Linked DNA regions of Homo sapiens. The protein of the gene in region 1 purifies or fractionates together with the protein of each later gene. This does not show direct contact. Each region holds a gene or a part of one and is shown in the gene's direction. Other genes may lie near its edges.

The links.
Region 2: the proteins of SLIT2 (region 1) and RSRC1 purify together in Homo sapiens (affinity purification with mass spectrometry, with the first as the bait; one large-scale study listed by BioGRID). This does not show direct contact.
Region 3: the proteins of SLIT2 (region 1) and EXOSC7 purify together in Homo sapiens (affinity purification with mass spectrometry, with the first as the bait; one large-scale study listed by BioGRID). This does not show direct contact.
Region 4: the proteins of SLIT2 (region 1) and LRRC47 purify together in Homo sapiens (affinity purification with mass spectrometry, with the first as the bait; one large-scale study listed by BioGRID). This does not show direct contact.

What each region holds. Positions count from the first base shown.
Region 1 is NC_000004.12:20,257,977-20,262,228, forward strand, and holds part of SLIT2 (slit homolog 2 protein isoform 1 precursor), read left to right. Parts: intron 1-4,252. UniProt on the Homo sapiens protein: Thought to act as molecular guidance cue in cellular migration, and function appears to be mediated by interaction with roundabout homolog receptors.
Region 2 is NC_000003.12:158,123,213-158,127,088, forward strand, and holds part of RSRC1 (serine/Arginine-related protein 53), read left to right. Parts: intron 1-653; coding exon 654-779; intron 780-3,876. UniProt on the Homo sapiens protein: Has a role in alternative splicing and transcription regulation. Involved in both constitutive and alternative pre-mRNA splicing. May have a role in the recognition of the 3' splice site during the second step of splicing.
Region 3 is NC_000003.12:45,003,368-45,007,243, forward strand, and holds part of EXOSC7 (exosome complex component RRP42), read left to right. Parts: intron 1-1,923; coding exon 1,924-2,047; intron 2,048-3,876. UniProt on the Homo sapiens protein: Non-catalytic component of the RNA exosome complex which has 3'->5' exoribonuclease activity and participates in a multitude of cellular RNA processing and degradation events.
Region 4 is NC_000001.11:3,782,999-3,786,874, reverse strand, and holds part of LRRC47 (leucine-rich repeat-containing protein 47), read left to right. Parts: coding exon 1-26; intron 27-1,671; coding exon 1,672-1,788; intron 1,789-2,763; coding exon 2,764-2,879; intron 2,880-3,876.

The sequences.
Region 1 (4,252 bases):
TGTGTTTTTTAAAAATACTTAAATTTCAAGCATCATGTCTTCAATTTCATGTCTTAGGGTTTGAAATTTTGCAGAAAAAGGAGGATGAATGAGTGGTTTTCAGGTTAATTTATGACAAATAGAGTTCCTGAATAAAAAGTTCTAACTTGTAATTAAGCTCAAAAATACAGTTACTTTCCTGAGACATGTATTTCCTTGATAATCATTGCTTTGGTACTTAAAGATGTACAAGCATTTCTTATTCTTCATTTGATTTGTTTTATTTGCTCATGTAGGAAGAAAGGTGGTACTTTTATTTGCGTTAATGGTGCATTAGGGAAGAGAGAAGTTTTGCTAATTGTTATTTTCATTTTCATGGTGGTGCTTTGTGTGTTATCAGTGACATTTGATGAAATATTTTATATTTTACTAATAAAGATTTACTTTTTTATATTTAGCGTGGTGAACATTGTTATTGTTAATAATTACTTTTCAGTTTTATTTTATTTGGCCCTAGCTTTAAAAATATTTATTCTGGAAAAATAATCTAAACATTATGAAAGTAAGAACTGTGTTATCAAATTGTGGTCATTCAAAGTTGGTTTTCTTCCCAAGAAGATTAAATGTAGACTTCAGATTTTAAGATACGTTTTTTACATATTACTTGAGGACTTTAAAAATGTTTACAGTATATATCTGCAAAAGACAAAACCTCTGTCTGAAATAATTAAGATAAATTACAGACCTTGTAATTGAAGTACGAATTGTATGTCTTACATGCCTTGATTATTCAGGTTTGATATGTTTGCATTTTGAAGGCAAAGAAAAGCTCTAGTAAAAGAAACAACAATTATTTTAATAAGTTTTCATGCCTGCCTTAATAGTCACTTTAAGTAAAAATAATTTTTTTCAAAAAATAATAAAATCTAATGTTCATTTTAAGCTTAACACATATTCAGGTTCACTGGGCAAAAGGGCAGAAGTTAATTCCCTGTAATTGTCCATAAGTAGAAAAATGGTTTGTCCCCTTCCAAGATATTTATAAATATATAGACTATATTTTTATCACCTCAAGTAAAACACAGAAATGTCTACTTTATTTTACTATTGGTCTTTCTCTATGTTAAATATTACAATACAAGGACTATAATTGTGGAATTCAAAATAAATTTAAAATCACTACTTTCAACTAATTTTAGAGGGAAATTAAAATTGGTAAACATTTGGTTGCATTCATAACAAAGCTTATAAGTTCATAGCCTATCTCTAAATATATAAAAAATACTCTGAAAGTATTTATTCTTTGATCTCCTTGATAGACTATGTGATTAGCTAATTCCTAGTAAGTAACTTGCAAAGATATTTTAATCTTTAAGAAAGCATCAATATAATTCAAATGTTTGGTAAAATGAATAGATAATTTAAATTATCATTTAAACTTTATGTTTTCAAGAATAACTTTTAGTCACCACAGGAAAGTATCTTGAGTTTAGTTGTTAACTTCCAAACCATTGAAGGAGTTTTGATGGCTTTTTATGCAGTCTCTATTTTGGTTATATTGTTGTTTTAAATATTTTCAGGGACACTAGAACTAAACAAACTTTCTCATTCTTTTTCAAGTCACTTCAGAGTGTTGTCTGAACTTTCATCTTGAATAAATTAACTTTTCCTAAAACTTATTAACCAGATGCTATATGCTCTGAAATTTGATTAGAGTTGTAAGTAGGTACTATTTTTTGACTTTTACTTCCTCTGGGAATGTCACTTCATCTCAGAACAATTTTCTATTCTACTAAGACTAAGTCAGATGTTTCAGAGTGGGAGGAGGATTTGTAATTCTGAATGAAAACTAATATATATGCAGGACTTCTTTAAATCACCCCAGCTGTTGGCCAAGAGCAAATATTTCATATTTGTGAGGAAAAGCTGAGAAAATTCCTTTTGTTTACAACTGCCAAATCCATCTGATGGAAGCACATTGTTATCTGACAGCCAATTCATTTCCTTGGACTCTGGAATTCAAAACCATTTCTTAGGAACATTGTGGATACACTTTTCAAATATTTATTTTTTAAAAATACATTAAATGGCAAGGCAGGTTTGCTAAGGAATGCATTCAAGTTATTGTGAAACAAACTATTTTAAATTTTGTTCATTGTATTGATTTAAAAAATAAAAACTACAAAAACCCCAAAACTACCCAGAGAGTTCCATAATCAAACTGCTATGGCCTGTGGTATATATCTTTATTTTAGTCAGTGTCATTAACACCAAAAAATTGCTTGCTTTTTCAAAAGCTGCAAGAGACAATGTGAGAGACAAGAAGAAATCAATAAATTAGCTTTTTATTATGTATTGTGTAAATTTATATGGTTTTTAAGAATTTAGTTGTGAAATTTAAAATTGGAACTCAATTATGAAAAAAGTATAAAATTAGGTTTATGTTGTAAATCCCATTTATATACTGAATAGTGATTTAATTTTTATTCCTTGTATGAAGAACAAAATAAAATAAAAACATTAATTTTATTCTTGTGTAATTTATGGTTTTAAGTTATTTTCATTTTAAAATGATAAAATAATTCTAAATTACATTTTGTGAATATTTCATAGTTATACATTTTTCTTTTTCTTTTATTTTATGTTGATGGACTTTTAACTTGATCTATAGAAAAATCTGAAAACAGAAGATAAAGATCTGTACCTTTTAAAAATTCAGCTTTTTAATCTGCAAGAAACAGTCATGTTGTTGATTTGAATTTAATTGTAGCATGGAATGGCAAAGTCATTATTTGCAAATCAAAACATTATAGCTATAAAAGATAGTTTTCCCTTTCAAAGAGTGGATGAAATACAACATTTTCAGATAAACTGTCAAGGAGTTAATAGTAAAATACCTCCTCCTTTCTTTCCTCCTCCTCTCCCTCACCTCCTTCTTTTTTTCTTCCATTTTCTTTTCTTTCTTCCTTACCTCTCTAACTAGCTCCTTCCCTCCCCTCTCCTCCATTCTCTTACAACATGAGATAACACATCATTGTCAGAATGTGGTTGTGCATCACTGTAAAAGGAGGAAGTTGTAATCACGTCTGCATACCACGAGCACACATTATTTTCTGTTTTGACAGTTTGTTTCTGCACTCTCAGACCTAACATGTGCAGAGTCACATTTCCTAGGATGCTCTGTATTGCTAGTGGTACCTGTTTATCTGGGATGAAAATGAAGCCTTCAGTATGTGCCTTATATAGACTGTATTAGCAGGTCTCCTGTTGTTTAATCAAAAAAATTTTCAAATGAAATGTACTCTACCTAGATGACCAGTTAATTCAATGGAAATTCGGATAAAAAAGTCACAAATAAGCTGCAGTAAGAATCAGGACACTTAGGAAGTATATTTCTTTTATATACCTCAAGGAAGATACCTGTGTATATCTGCAATAAATTCTCCATGCAAAATTATTAATTTGAGTTTTTTTTGGATGCTGCATAATGTCCTAGAGGGTTAAAAAAATAACACTGGGACCCAGCAATGCTGTGGGCTTGTGTAAAATTCTCTTGTTCACACACTGTTTATGGGATTAGATACTACAGTCATTCACTTCTATTTTATGGTCTTTTAGGGGGACCCAGATCATGTCAGGGTTCCACTAGTGAAAACAATCTTCTTTTGAAATTTCCTTGATAATACAAATGCAAAAGTATGAGAAAGTTTTTGAAATTTTTTAGGGTTGTTATAGGATGTTTTATTATTTACTCCAAGACTGAAAAGTGAAATGCATATATGCCTAGGTTATGTTGGTAAGAATCAGTAGCATACTGTGAAAAGTCTTGGATATTAGGCTTTGTGTGAACACCGCAACCATCTTGTAACCTTAAAATAAGAAAATTGTGGAAATAACAAAGGCAGGCATGTGGAGTGTTCATCTTTTCCCACCAATACTTGGTAAATGTGTGCTTTTAAGACAAATATTGCTTTAACTTCTCCTAGTGTTAGTATAATTGGGTTTGAAATGACATTTTTCCCACTAGCTTTGTCATTTGATACTCATTTATGCTTGAAAATGAGCTCTGAAAATATTATTATGATAAAGCCATGTAAGGAATCTTGAACAGTCAAGCTGTTAACTTAGACATTTAAAGTTTCCAGCAAGTTGATATAAAGAACATATTCTTTTTAAATTAGAAAAGTCTAAGTCCCTTTACAGTGGAGCCTACATTTGACTAAACACTACATTCTAATGAGATGGTATGTAAAAGACAAATTTATTTTTTTTA
Region 2 (3,876 bases), on another chromosome or scaffold:
GTCAGGCTGGTCTTGAACTCCTGACCTCAGGTGATCTGCCCTCCTCAGCCTCCCAAAATGTTGGGATTACAGGCGTGAGCCACCGTGCCTGGCCTTAATTTTAAATTTTTTTAGAGACAAGATCTTGCTCTGTCACTCAGGCGGGAGTGCAGCGGTGCAGTCATATCTTTTGGACTCAAGGGATCCTCCCACCTCAGCTTCCTGAATAGCTAGTACTAGAGGCATGTGCCACCATGCCTAGCTAAGTTTTTTTATTTTTATTTTTTGTGGAGACTTGGCCTTGCTGTGTTGCCCAAGCTGGTATCGAATTCTTGGCCTCAAGCGATCCTCCTGCCTCGGCCTCCCAACATGTTGGGATTACAGGCATGAGCTACTGAGCCTGGCCTTGGTTTAGTTTTCATACCATATAATCTGATGATATTTGGAAAGATTCTAAGACCCTTAATACCTTAATTAGTACTGATCCAATCACTAAGTTATGAACCAGTCATATGACTGTTCAAGAGAAATAACATTTTAATTTATCTCTGTTTGCTTCCAGGAAACAGTGAGACAGTAAAAATCAGATGATTCTTTAGAATCTAGAAGGTTTTTCCTTAATGCTCATAATAAAAATTTTTATAGCAGTGATCTTTGATTATATTTTATTTCAGACGCAGGCATCGATCAAGCAGTAGCTCTTCTTATGGCTCCAGAAGGAAACGAAGTCGAAGTCGTTCAAGGGGTCGAGGGAAATCCTATAGAGTTCAGAGGTCTAGGTCAAAAAGCAGAACAAGAAGGTATGCCTTATTAAGTATTTATTGCTTTGTAACAAATTATTCCCAAATTCAGCGATGTAAAGCAACAATCATTTATTTTCTTATAATTATATAATTTTGATTGAGCTTAGCTGGCACTTATTTTTTTCTCACCTGGGGTCATTCATGCAGTTAGTCATCTGATAGCTTGATTGGAACTGGATGGTCTAATGTGGCCTCACTCATATATCTTGCATTTGGTTCTGGCTATTGGCCGGGGTGTACGTGGCTTCTCATTGTCCAGTAGGCTAGATTGGGTTTCTTTTTTTCAGCCCGGTGGTGGTAGCACGTGCGTTCCCCAGACATGAGTTTACTAGTATTTTGTTAAGGATTTTTGCGTCAGTATTCATCAGGGACTTATGGCTTGCAGTTTTCTTGTAATATATTTGTCTGGCATTGGTATCAGAGTAATGCTGGCCTGATAAAATGAGTTTGGAAGTACTCCCTCCTTTTCAGTTTTTTTGGAAGATTTTGAAAAGGATTGACATTAATTTCTTTTTAAATGTTTGGTGGAATTCTGCAGTGAAGCTATCTGCTCCTGGGCTTTTCTTTGTTAGAAGGTTTTTGCTTACTGATTCAATCTCCTTGTTAGTTATACGTCTGTTAAGATTTTCTCTTCCTTCATGATTCAGTCTTGGTAGGTGGTATGTTTCTAGGAATTTATCCACTTTTTCTAGGTTATCCAGTTTATTAGCATTCTTAGTAGTCTTTTATAATCCTTTCAATGTTTGTGGCATCAACTGTAATGTCTGCTGTTTCATTTCTGATTTTAGTTATTACGCTTCTGGTATTTTTTCTTTTTCTTTCTTTCTTTTTTTTTTTTTTTGGAGGTGAGGTGTTGCTCTGTCACCTAGGCTTGGGTGTATTGGTGCAGTCAGCTCACTGCAGCCTCAAACTCCTGGGCTCAATGATCTTCTCACCTCAGTCTCCTAAGTGGCTAGAAATACAAGCATACACCACCAGGCCTGGCTGACTTTTTAAAATATGTTTTGTAGAAATCAGTCTTACCATATTGCCCAGGCTAGTCTCCAACTCCTGGTGTCAACTGGTCCTCCCACCTTATCCTTCCAAAGTGCTGGCATTATAGGTATGATCTACCTTGCCCGGCCTCATTTTTTCTTAATCTAACTAAGTACTTGTTAATTTTGTTGTTGTTTTTCAAAAAACTCTTAGTTTTGTTGATTTTTTTCTAAAGTCTTTCTGTTCTCTATTTTATTTATTTTTTTCTCTAATCATTTTTATTTTCTTTCTTTGGATAATTTTTGGTTTAATTTGTTCTTTATTTAGTTCCTTGAAGTATTAAGTATGATATGAGACTTTTCTTTTTTTCTTAAATGTAGGTGTTCATGCTAAAACTTTCCTTTCAGTATTGCTTTTGCTGTTTCTCTTAAGTTTTACTATGTGTGTTTGTGTTTTCATTTGTTTAAAGGTATTTTCTAATTTCTCTTATGATTTCTTCTTTGGTGTATTTGGTTGTTCAAGAGTGTGTAGTTTAATTTCTACATATTTGTGGATTTTCTGATTTTTCTACTGCTATTGATGTCTAGTTTCATTTCTTTGTGTTTCGAAAAGATACTTGCTATGATTTCGGTCTTATTAAATTTGTTAAGACTTGTTTTGTGGCCTAACATGAAATCTGTCGTGGAGAATGTTCCATGTACACTTGAGAAGAATGCATATTTTGCTGCTGTTGTGTGGAGTGTTCTGTGTATTTATGTTAGGTCTAATTCATCTGTAGTGTTGTTCAGGTCCTCTTATGTCTTATTTTTCTGTCCATTATTGAAAGTGGATTATTGAAATACCCTACTATTACTATGTTACTAAATACTTCTCCCTTCCATTCTGGCAATGTTTACTTTATATATTTGAGTGCTCTGGTGTTAGGTGCATATATATATAATTGTTATATATTCCAGAATAATGACCCATTTATCATTATATAATTTTCTTTTTTTCTTGTGACAGTCTTTGACTTAAAGTCTATTTTGTCTTGTGTAAGTATGGCCACTTCTGCTCTTTTTTTGTACCATTTGTATGGATTATCTTTTTCATCTTTTTCAGTATATGTGTGTCTTTACATCTAAGGCACATCTTTTGTAAACAGCATATACTGTAATTGTATTTTGTGTGTATGAGTGTGTGTTTTGAAAAATTCATTCAGCTACTTTTGTGTGTTTTGTTTGGGGAGTTTAATCCAGTTACATTTACAATAATTACTGATGGGGAAGGACTTACTGTTGCCATTTTGTTGATTGTTTTCTGCCTTATAGCTATTTTGTCTCTCATGTCTCCTGCTGCCTTCCTTTTTGTTTTGTTGATTTTTGTATTGACATGCTATGATTTTTTTTCTGATTTTATTTTGTATATGTTCTATAGGTATTTTCTTTGTGGTTGCCATGAGGCTTACACAAAACATTGTCTTTTAAGTTGGTAATAACCTTTGACTTTATACAAAAATACTGCTCTTGTATGTTTCTCCACTTCTATTTTATGTTATTGATATCACAGTTTACATCTTATTGTATCCATTAATATAGCTTATAGTTAGTTATTTTTTATACTGTCATCTTTTCAATTCTATATCTGAATTAAAAATGTTTTACATACCACCATTACAGTGTTAGTGTACTCTGTACTTGTGTATATATTTACCTTTACCAGTGAGCTTTATGTTTTCATGTACTTTTGTGTTGCTGTCTAGTGTCATTTCATTTCCACTTGCAGGACTCCTCTTAGTATTTCTTGTAAGGCAGGTCTGGTAGTGAAGAACTCCCTTAGCTTTTGTTTATCTGGGAAAGATTTGATTTGTCTTTTGTTCTTGTAGAACAATTTTGCTTGATATAGTGTTCTTGATTGACAGGGTTTTTTTTGTTTTTGTTTTTGTTTTTGTTTTTGTTTTTGTTTTTGTTTTTTGCTTTCAGCACTTTGAATATATCACCTGATTCCTTTCTGGCTTGTAATGTTTCCTCTGCAAAATTGCTGAAATCTTATGAAAGCTCCCTTGTGTATGACGATTTACTTTTCTCTTGCTGCTTTCAAGATTCTCTCTTTGCCTTTAACTTTTGTTAATTAGATTATA
Region 3 (3,876 bases), on another chromosome or scaffold:
TGTGTGTAAATGGTTGACAACTTGTTCAAATAGGATATTACTTAGTAGAACTTCCTCTGATGGGAAGGCTCCAAATGGGGAAGACCCTTACAGAACTCCTTGGCCCTTGTCAACATTCTCTGGCTGAAGCTCCCCTGATCTGATCTAGATGTTGCCTTGTGTATGGATGGCCAGCAGGGCTCAATCATGGGGGGTTTTGTTAGAGGAACTGGGAAAAGTACTAATGCTGTTTCCATTACAGTAGCTGGATGGACCACCTCTTCCTTCCTGGCTCCTCCAACCCAGCCTGGAGTGAATTGACTTTATAGGTTAAATGTGTTTTTCAGTACCCAGCTGAAGAAACAGAATGTTGCCAGCACCCCAGAAGCATCCCACACCTTCTGTACCCCCATGCAATTACACTCACTGATGATAACCAGCATCTTAAAAGAATAGATTACTTTTGTACTTGATATAAATGGTATCATATACTATGTTCTGTTTTGTGTCTGCCTCATTCACTAAGCATTGTGTTTTGAGAGATCTGTGTTGCTGCCTTAGTCATAGCTTGCTTTTTGCTGTATGGTGTTCCATTGTGTGACTTTGTCCAGTCTGCTGTTTATCCAGTCTACTGTCCAGTCTGCTGTTGTTTATCAGTCTACTGTTGATGGCCATCTGGTTCATTTCCAGTTTGAGGCTATTACAAATAGGGATGGGCATCATGAACATTTTGTGCATGTCTTTGGTGCACATATTTCTCTATTTCTGTTAGGGAGGAGTGTTCTGGGTTATAGGGTATGGCTATCTTTAGTTACGGTAGATGCTGCCAGTTTCACAAAGTGTTTTACCAGTTAACACTTCCACCAGCAGTGTATGTAAGAGTTCCGGGTTGTTTCACATTTTTGTCAACTCTTGCTTTTTTTTTTTGAGATGGAGTCTCACTCTGTCTCCCAGGCTGGACTGCAGTGGCGTGATCTCAGTTCACTGCAACCTCCACTTCCCAGGTTCAAGCGATTCTCTTACCTCAGCCTCCCAAGTAGCTGGGATTACAGGTGTGCACCACCACACCCAGCTAATTTTTGTATTTTTAGTAGAGATGGGGTTTCACCATCTTGGCCAGGCTGGTCTCGAACTCCTGACCTCAGGTGATCCTCCCGCCTTGGCCTCTGAAAGTACTGGGATTACAGGCATGAGCCACCATGCCTGGCGTTTTTTTTTTTTTGTTTTTTTTTTTAATAGTTATTTTGGTTGTGCCTTGGTATCACAGTGTAGTTTTAATTTGCATTTTTAATAGATATTTAAATTGAGCACCTTTTCTTGGTTTATTGGCTACTCAGACAGCCTCTTTTATGAAGACATCCAAATATATTCTACGTTTGAGTCTTTTGTCCATTTTTCTGTTGGGCTGTCTTTTTTTTGTTTAATAGGAATTCTTTATGTAATCTGTCAGGTAGTATTTTATCTCCCCAGATTATATTTTTAGTTTTTAAATGATGTCTTCTGATATACAGAAGTTCATGATGTTATAATTGAATATGTAACTTTTTTCTCTTTCTGTATCCTGTTCAAGAAATAGTTGTCTACTCCAAGGTCATGCAGATGTTTTTTTCTAAATGCTTTATTGTCTTGTCTTTTATTTTTTATATCTATGGTCTATTTGGTATGGCTTCGTGTGTGTGGTGTGAGGTAGGGATTGAGATTCTTTTTTTTCCATTGGGATATCTGATTGACCCAGCATCATTTTCTAAAAGATGCCTTTCCTCATTGCACTGCGGCGCCTCCTGTGTGCTTTTGACAGGGATGACAGGGATGAGGATGATAAAGAATAGGCATAGCGTGTCTTTCTCTTGTGAGACACAGGGATTCCAACTCCTATTCTCAATCTTAAAAAGAAGTTATTTTTCCTCCTCCAAGTGGGAATTTTACTAGTGCTTCTGCTTCCAGGATACCAAGGGTTCGAGTTTTGGAGGATGAAGAGGGGTCGAAGGACATTGAATTGTCAGATGACCCTTATGACTGCATACGACTAAGTGTGGAGAATGTCCCCTGCATTGTCACTCTGTGCAAGGTATAACTTGTATTTTATGGTTTTTGTCTTCCCTGTGGGTGTGGGTCTCCTCTAATCCCAACCTGCTGAGGTTACTTAATAAGTTAAGAAGTTGTAATACCACACACCATATAGAAGTAGCTTTTACCCAAATCCAATAATTTGGTTATACTAGAAACCACTACCACGAGTAGCTCTTTCTTTTCTTTTTAATTGGAAGATATGATGTGGTCCTGGGAGCCATGAGTGTGTTTGTAGTAATAGTAGCCAGAGTTTGTTAAGCTCCTTCCACATACCATGTGCTTCACTAAAGCACCATGTCTTTTAATTACCTCAACTCTATGGGGTCTAGGGTGGTTGAGTAGTGGCAGGGTGGCGAACACTGTCCCCCCTATGAAATGGGAGGTTGGAGCAGGTCTTGGGTATCATGAGTGGTTTTCACATAGAGGGCTGTGGAGCTGAACATCAGGCTGATGTGATATATAACTAATGCTGCCCCAGGCTGTGCAAAGAGGCCTGTATTGGCTATTGACTGGGATTGTAGCTAATTCCACTCAGGATTCATTATCTCAAAATAAAGCTAAACAGGTCAGGTTTAATTCCACTGAAATCACTTCATGAACAGGATGTGGTGAAGTGTTCAGACAACAGGATGGCAGGATGTTGGGTCTTGGCTTTTTTTTTTTTTTTTTTTTTTTTTTTTTGAGACAGTCTTGCTGCAACGCCCAGGCTGGAGTGCAATGGCGCGATCTCAGCTCACTGCAACCTCCGCCTCCCAGGTTCAAGCAATTCTTCTGCCTCAGCCTCCCAAATAGCTGGGATTACAGGCACGTGCCATCATGCCTGGCTAATTTTTGTATTTTTAGTAGAGACGGTGTTTCACCATGTTGGCCAGGCTGGTCTCAAACTCCTGACCTCGGGTGATCTGCCCACCTCAGCCTCCCAAAGTGCCGGGATTACAGGCATAAGCCACCGCACCTAGCCGGCTTGTTCTTTCTTGTTGTTTATTTGTTTTTTTTTTTTTTTTTTTTTTTGAGACAGAGTCTCGCTCTGTCGCCCAGGCCGGACTGCGGACTGCAGTGGTGCAATCTCGGCTCACTGTAAGCTCCGCTTCCTGGGTTCACGCCATTCTCCTGCCTCAGCCTCCCGAGTAGCTGGGACTACAGGCGCCCGCCACCGCGCCTGGCTAATTTTTTGTATTTTTAGTAGAGACGGGGTTTCACCTTGTTAGCCAGGATGGTCTCGATCTCCTGACCTCATGATCTGCCCGCCTCGGCCTCCCAAAGTGCTGGGATTACAGGCGTGAGCCACCGCGCCCGGCCTTGTTTTGAGACAGTGTTGCTCTGTTGCCCAGGCTGGAGTGCAGTAGCACAATCTAGGCTCACTGCAACCTCTGCTGCAACCCCCCCACCCGCCCCGGCTCAACCTCAAGCAACCCTTCCACCTCAGCCTCCCAAGTAGCTGGTACCACAGGCTCACACCACCATATCTGGCTATTTTTTTGTATTTTTGGTGGAGACAGGGTCTTGCCATGTTGCCTGGGCTGGTCTCAAACTCCTGAGCTCAAGCATTCCATTTTCCTCAGCTTCCCAAAGTGCTGGGAGGCATGAGCCGCTGCGCCCAGCCTTTGGCTTGTTCTTGAGTGTGTCCCTTAGCATGGACCCTCTTGATTCCCCCTTGCCATCAGTGAAACGTCCATGTGGCCTTGTGTGTGAATTTCTCCCTTGTGCCCCTCTGTTGGAAAGCCTTGGTGGCCTTTGTCTTGGTTGGTCTCTGAATTCTAGTTTTAAACCACCTTGCCCTGTTTTTCCATATCGTGTTTTTATTGTACCACCCACACAGTGGCCTGT
Region 4 (3,876 bases), on another chromosome or scaffold:
CACTCAAGCGCTTCCTCACCTCGCAGGTGGGTGCCCGTGGGGGTCCTCAGATGACTGGGACAGAGGTGTGAGACGCCGCAAGCTGGGACACATCCTGAGGCCAGCGTGTCCGAAGGAGCAGCAGTGGAGTATGGGGCCCAGCCGGGTGTCTGTGTGCTTCAGTTTCCTCAGCTCCAAAAAGGGAATAGAGCAGGTTCTGGCTCAGGTGTTGCTGAGGAGGGGGTAAGGCCTCAGTCCCCTCCGGGAGGCAGGTGTCTCCAGCGTGGAGATGGCCTCTTCACAGACGCCTGCACCCTGGCCTGGTTGGTCCTGGTCACTGGTCGTATCCCTTGCTCCTCCACATATGGTGTTAACGGTTTATCCTGATTTTTTTTTTTTAAGGAGTCTCGCTTTGTCTCCCAGGCTGGAGTACGGTGGCGCAGTCTAATCTCACTGTAGCGTCCGCCTCCTGGGTTCAAGTGATTCTCCTGCCTCAGCCTGCTGAGTAGCTGGCATTACAGGTGCTCACCATCATGTCTGGCTAATTTTTTTGTATTTTTAAAAGAGATGAGGTTTCACCATGTTGGCCAGGTTGGTCTTGAACTCCTGACCTCAAGCAGTCCACCCGCCTTGGCCTCCCAAAGTGTGGGGATTACGGGTGTCAGCCACCACACCTGGCCTATCCTAATTTCTGGATAGCTTTATTGCAGTTGAAAATCAGGGTTCCAGCTGGTGCGGTGGCTCACGCCTGTAATCCCAGCACTTCAGGAGGCCGAGGTGGGTGCATCACCTGAGGTCAGGAGTTTGAGACCAGCCTGGACAACATGACGAAACCCCATCTCTACCGAAAACACAAAAATTAGCCAGGCGTGGTGGTGAGCACCTTTAATCCCAGCTACTGGGGAGGCCGAGGCAGGAGAATCACTTGAACCTGGGAGGTGGAGGTTGCAGTGAGCCAAGATTGCACCACCGCATTCCAGCCTGGGTGACACAGCAAGACTCCATCTCAAAAAAAAAAAAAAAGGAAAATCAGGGTTCCTTGATTTTTTGATATTTTGGTGGGTTTTCTGACTTCTGCAGTAAATCACACATTTTGTTTTATGTAAGACAGTATTAAAGTCATCAACTCTTGCCAGCACATTCTTCTGTGAATTGTTTAGGTTTTGGCAAGACTAACTTCCCAGTTGCTTTTCTGTGACACCTGACCAACTTTTAAAATATAAAGCACCTCTGTGCCCAGGGGAAAGTCTCGTGCGCCCCGCAGTGGCAGCGACAGAGCATGGCGGGCCGAGAGTGACTGTCGTGAGAGTCCTGCCTGCAGCTTGGGGAGGAAGGGAACAGGCATCACAGCCAGGGCTTTACAACTTAAAGCTCAGCCTTTATTTACATTTTAGTTCAAGATGGGTTCTTTGAAATCTCAAATATTATGTCAGAATTAGAGAAGGAAGAAAGTCTGCTGATTGATAGGTTAAGATAGTTTTCCTGATGGTGATTCCACAAAGTGAGTGCCTGGCTGGCCGGGTGGAGAGGAGTTGGAGGGGAGCCCTGTCTCGGAAAGGGGCGTGGCGTGGTTGTGAAGACCTTGGACCGGGAGGGTTTCCTGGCACACAGCCCAGCCAAGGGTGAAGTGTGGACACCTCGCTGGGCTTCAGGGCACAAGAGACCTTGCTCATCACTGCTTCTGTGTTACAGACCAAGCTCCACGAAGATCTCTGTGAGAAGAGGACGGCTGCCACCCTTGCCACCCACGAGCTCCGTGCCGTCAAAGGGCCCCTGCTGTACTGCGCCCGGCCCCCACAGGACCTCAAGGTGCTGCAGCCTCCTTTGCAGGGTCTGCTGAAGAGTCTCCTTGGTGTCGAAAGACGCCATGCTGCTACTGCAGCCCGAACTTTTTTTTTTTTTGGAGATGGAGTTCCATTGTTGCCCAGGCTGGAGTGCAGTGGCACAATCTCGGCTCACTGCAGCCTCTGCCTCCTGGGTTGAAGCGATTCTCCTGCTTCAGCCTCCCGAATAGCTGAGTTTACAGGCATGTGCCACCACGCCCAGCTAATTTTGTATTTTTAGTAGAGACGAGGTTTCTCCATGTTGGTCAGGCTGGTCTCAAACTCCAGGCCTCAGGTGATCCGCCCAACTTGGCCTCCCAAAGTGCTGGGATTACAGGCGTAAGCCACCGCACCCGGCCTGAACATTTTCTTTAGAGTAGGATCCGATGCTGTTCTTGCAAAGACATGAAATAATGAAACAGACCGCGTTTGCGGTTACTCGAAGCGGTGCACAGCTGTGAGAGGACTCGGCGGATGAGCAGTCGTTGGGAAAATGGTTTCCTTCACTCGCTCACTACCTTTTAATCAGAAATTTTGGTCTCTGTCCCGATAGTAAAACCGTTTGCGTGGGGTTGGCAGTAGGGTGAGTTGCTGTGTCGTGCTGTCCTGGGCTGTTGAATCTGTGGAGTGCACGAGGTCCCGGCTGCTCAGCCTTTCTCTCCTCTTTTGGCCTTCTGAGGATGGCAGACCTCTGGAAACAGTTGTGCATGAGCTGGCTTTAAGGTTAAGCCCTGCCTCAGTAGGATCGGTGTGTTTGGGCGTCAGGTCTCCCCGGGACGCTGCAGTGGCAGCCCACATGCAGCTTCTTGCTGCGTGGTCCCGTGGGATGCTCCCTGCCTGCTGTAGAGATGAATGAGGGCGGGAGTCGGGAGGGCTCATTGAGGCTTAAGGCCGTAATCGACACGATGGGCGAGTTCTGTGGCTGTGACCCTAGTGGAGTTTGTGGGTTTCTGCCCGATAGATTGTCCCCTTGGGGCGGAAAGAAGCCAAGGCCAAGGAGCTGGTGCGGCAGCTGCAGCTGGAGGCCGAGGAGCAGAGGAAGCAGAAGAAGCGGCAGAGTGTGTCGGGCCTGCACAGGTGGGCAGCGTGCCTGGTGGGGTGGGGCCGGGCCCGGGGGAGTGCCGCATGCTGGCCTCAGCTGAGTTAGTCTGTGCTCCTCAGGAACCGCCTAATGCTACCAGAACCCAGAAGCTTCTTAACAGGGTACAAAGAAAGCATTCTCTTTCCAAAGGAGACGTTGTGGAACCAGTCTGTCATCTAGATGGCCCTGACGTGAGGGAAGTGGAAGGTGTTAGGAGCGGAGGTATTGGCCATTCCACAGGGGGCGGGTGGCCCTCAGGATGGGACAGGACAGGATATAAACTAGCCATTAGGAAACAGACATAAATGCCAGCCCAACCCACAGCATTTTATCCATACCGTGCGCTGTTGGGTATCATCCAAGTCAGGGTCCTTGGTGCTGCTCTAAGCAAGATGATCATCCGTAACTAGCCCAGTGATTTCTGTAAACACAGGCTTCAGAATACTTTGTTCTTTGAAGCTTGTTATGCTTGGGCCCTTGATATTACACTTAATTTGTGTAAAGAACTTTTTGAGTCGTCCATTTTACCCTTTAGGTATGTTTTCAGGTGTGTGCTTTTTTTTTTTTTTTTGAGATGGGGTCTCACTCTTGTCGCCCAGGCTGGAGTGCAATGGCACGATCTTGGCTCACTGCAACCTCCACCTCCTAGGTTCAAGCGATTCTGCCGCCTCAGCCTCCCGAGTAGCTGGGATTACAGGCGCCTGCCACCATGCCTGGCTAATATTTGTGTTTTTAGTAGAGACGGGGTTTCGCCATGTTAGCCAGGCTGGTCCTGAACTCCTGACTTCAAGCAGTCTGCCTGCCTCAGCCTCCCAAACTGCTAGGATTACAGGCGTGAGCCACCACGCCCAGCTGTGCCTTTTTTCTTTTTTTTTTTTTTTAAGATGTGGTCGCGCCATGTTGCCCAGGCTGGAGTGAGGTGGCTAATCATAGGCGCAGTCCCACTACTGATCAGCACCGGAGCTTTTTGTCCTGCTCTGTTTCTGACCTGGG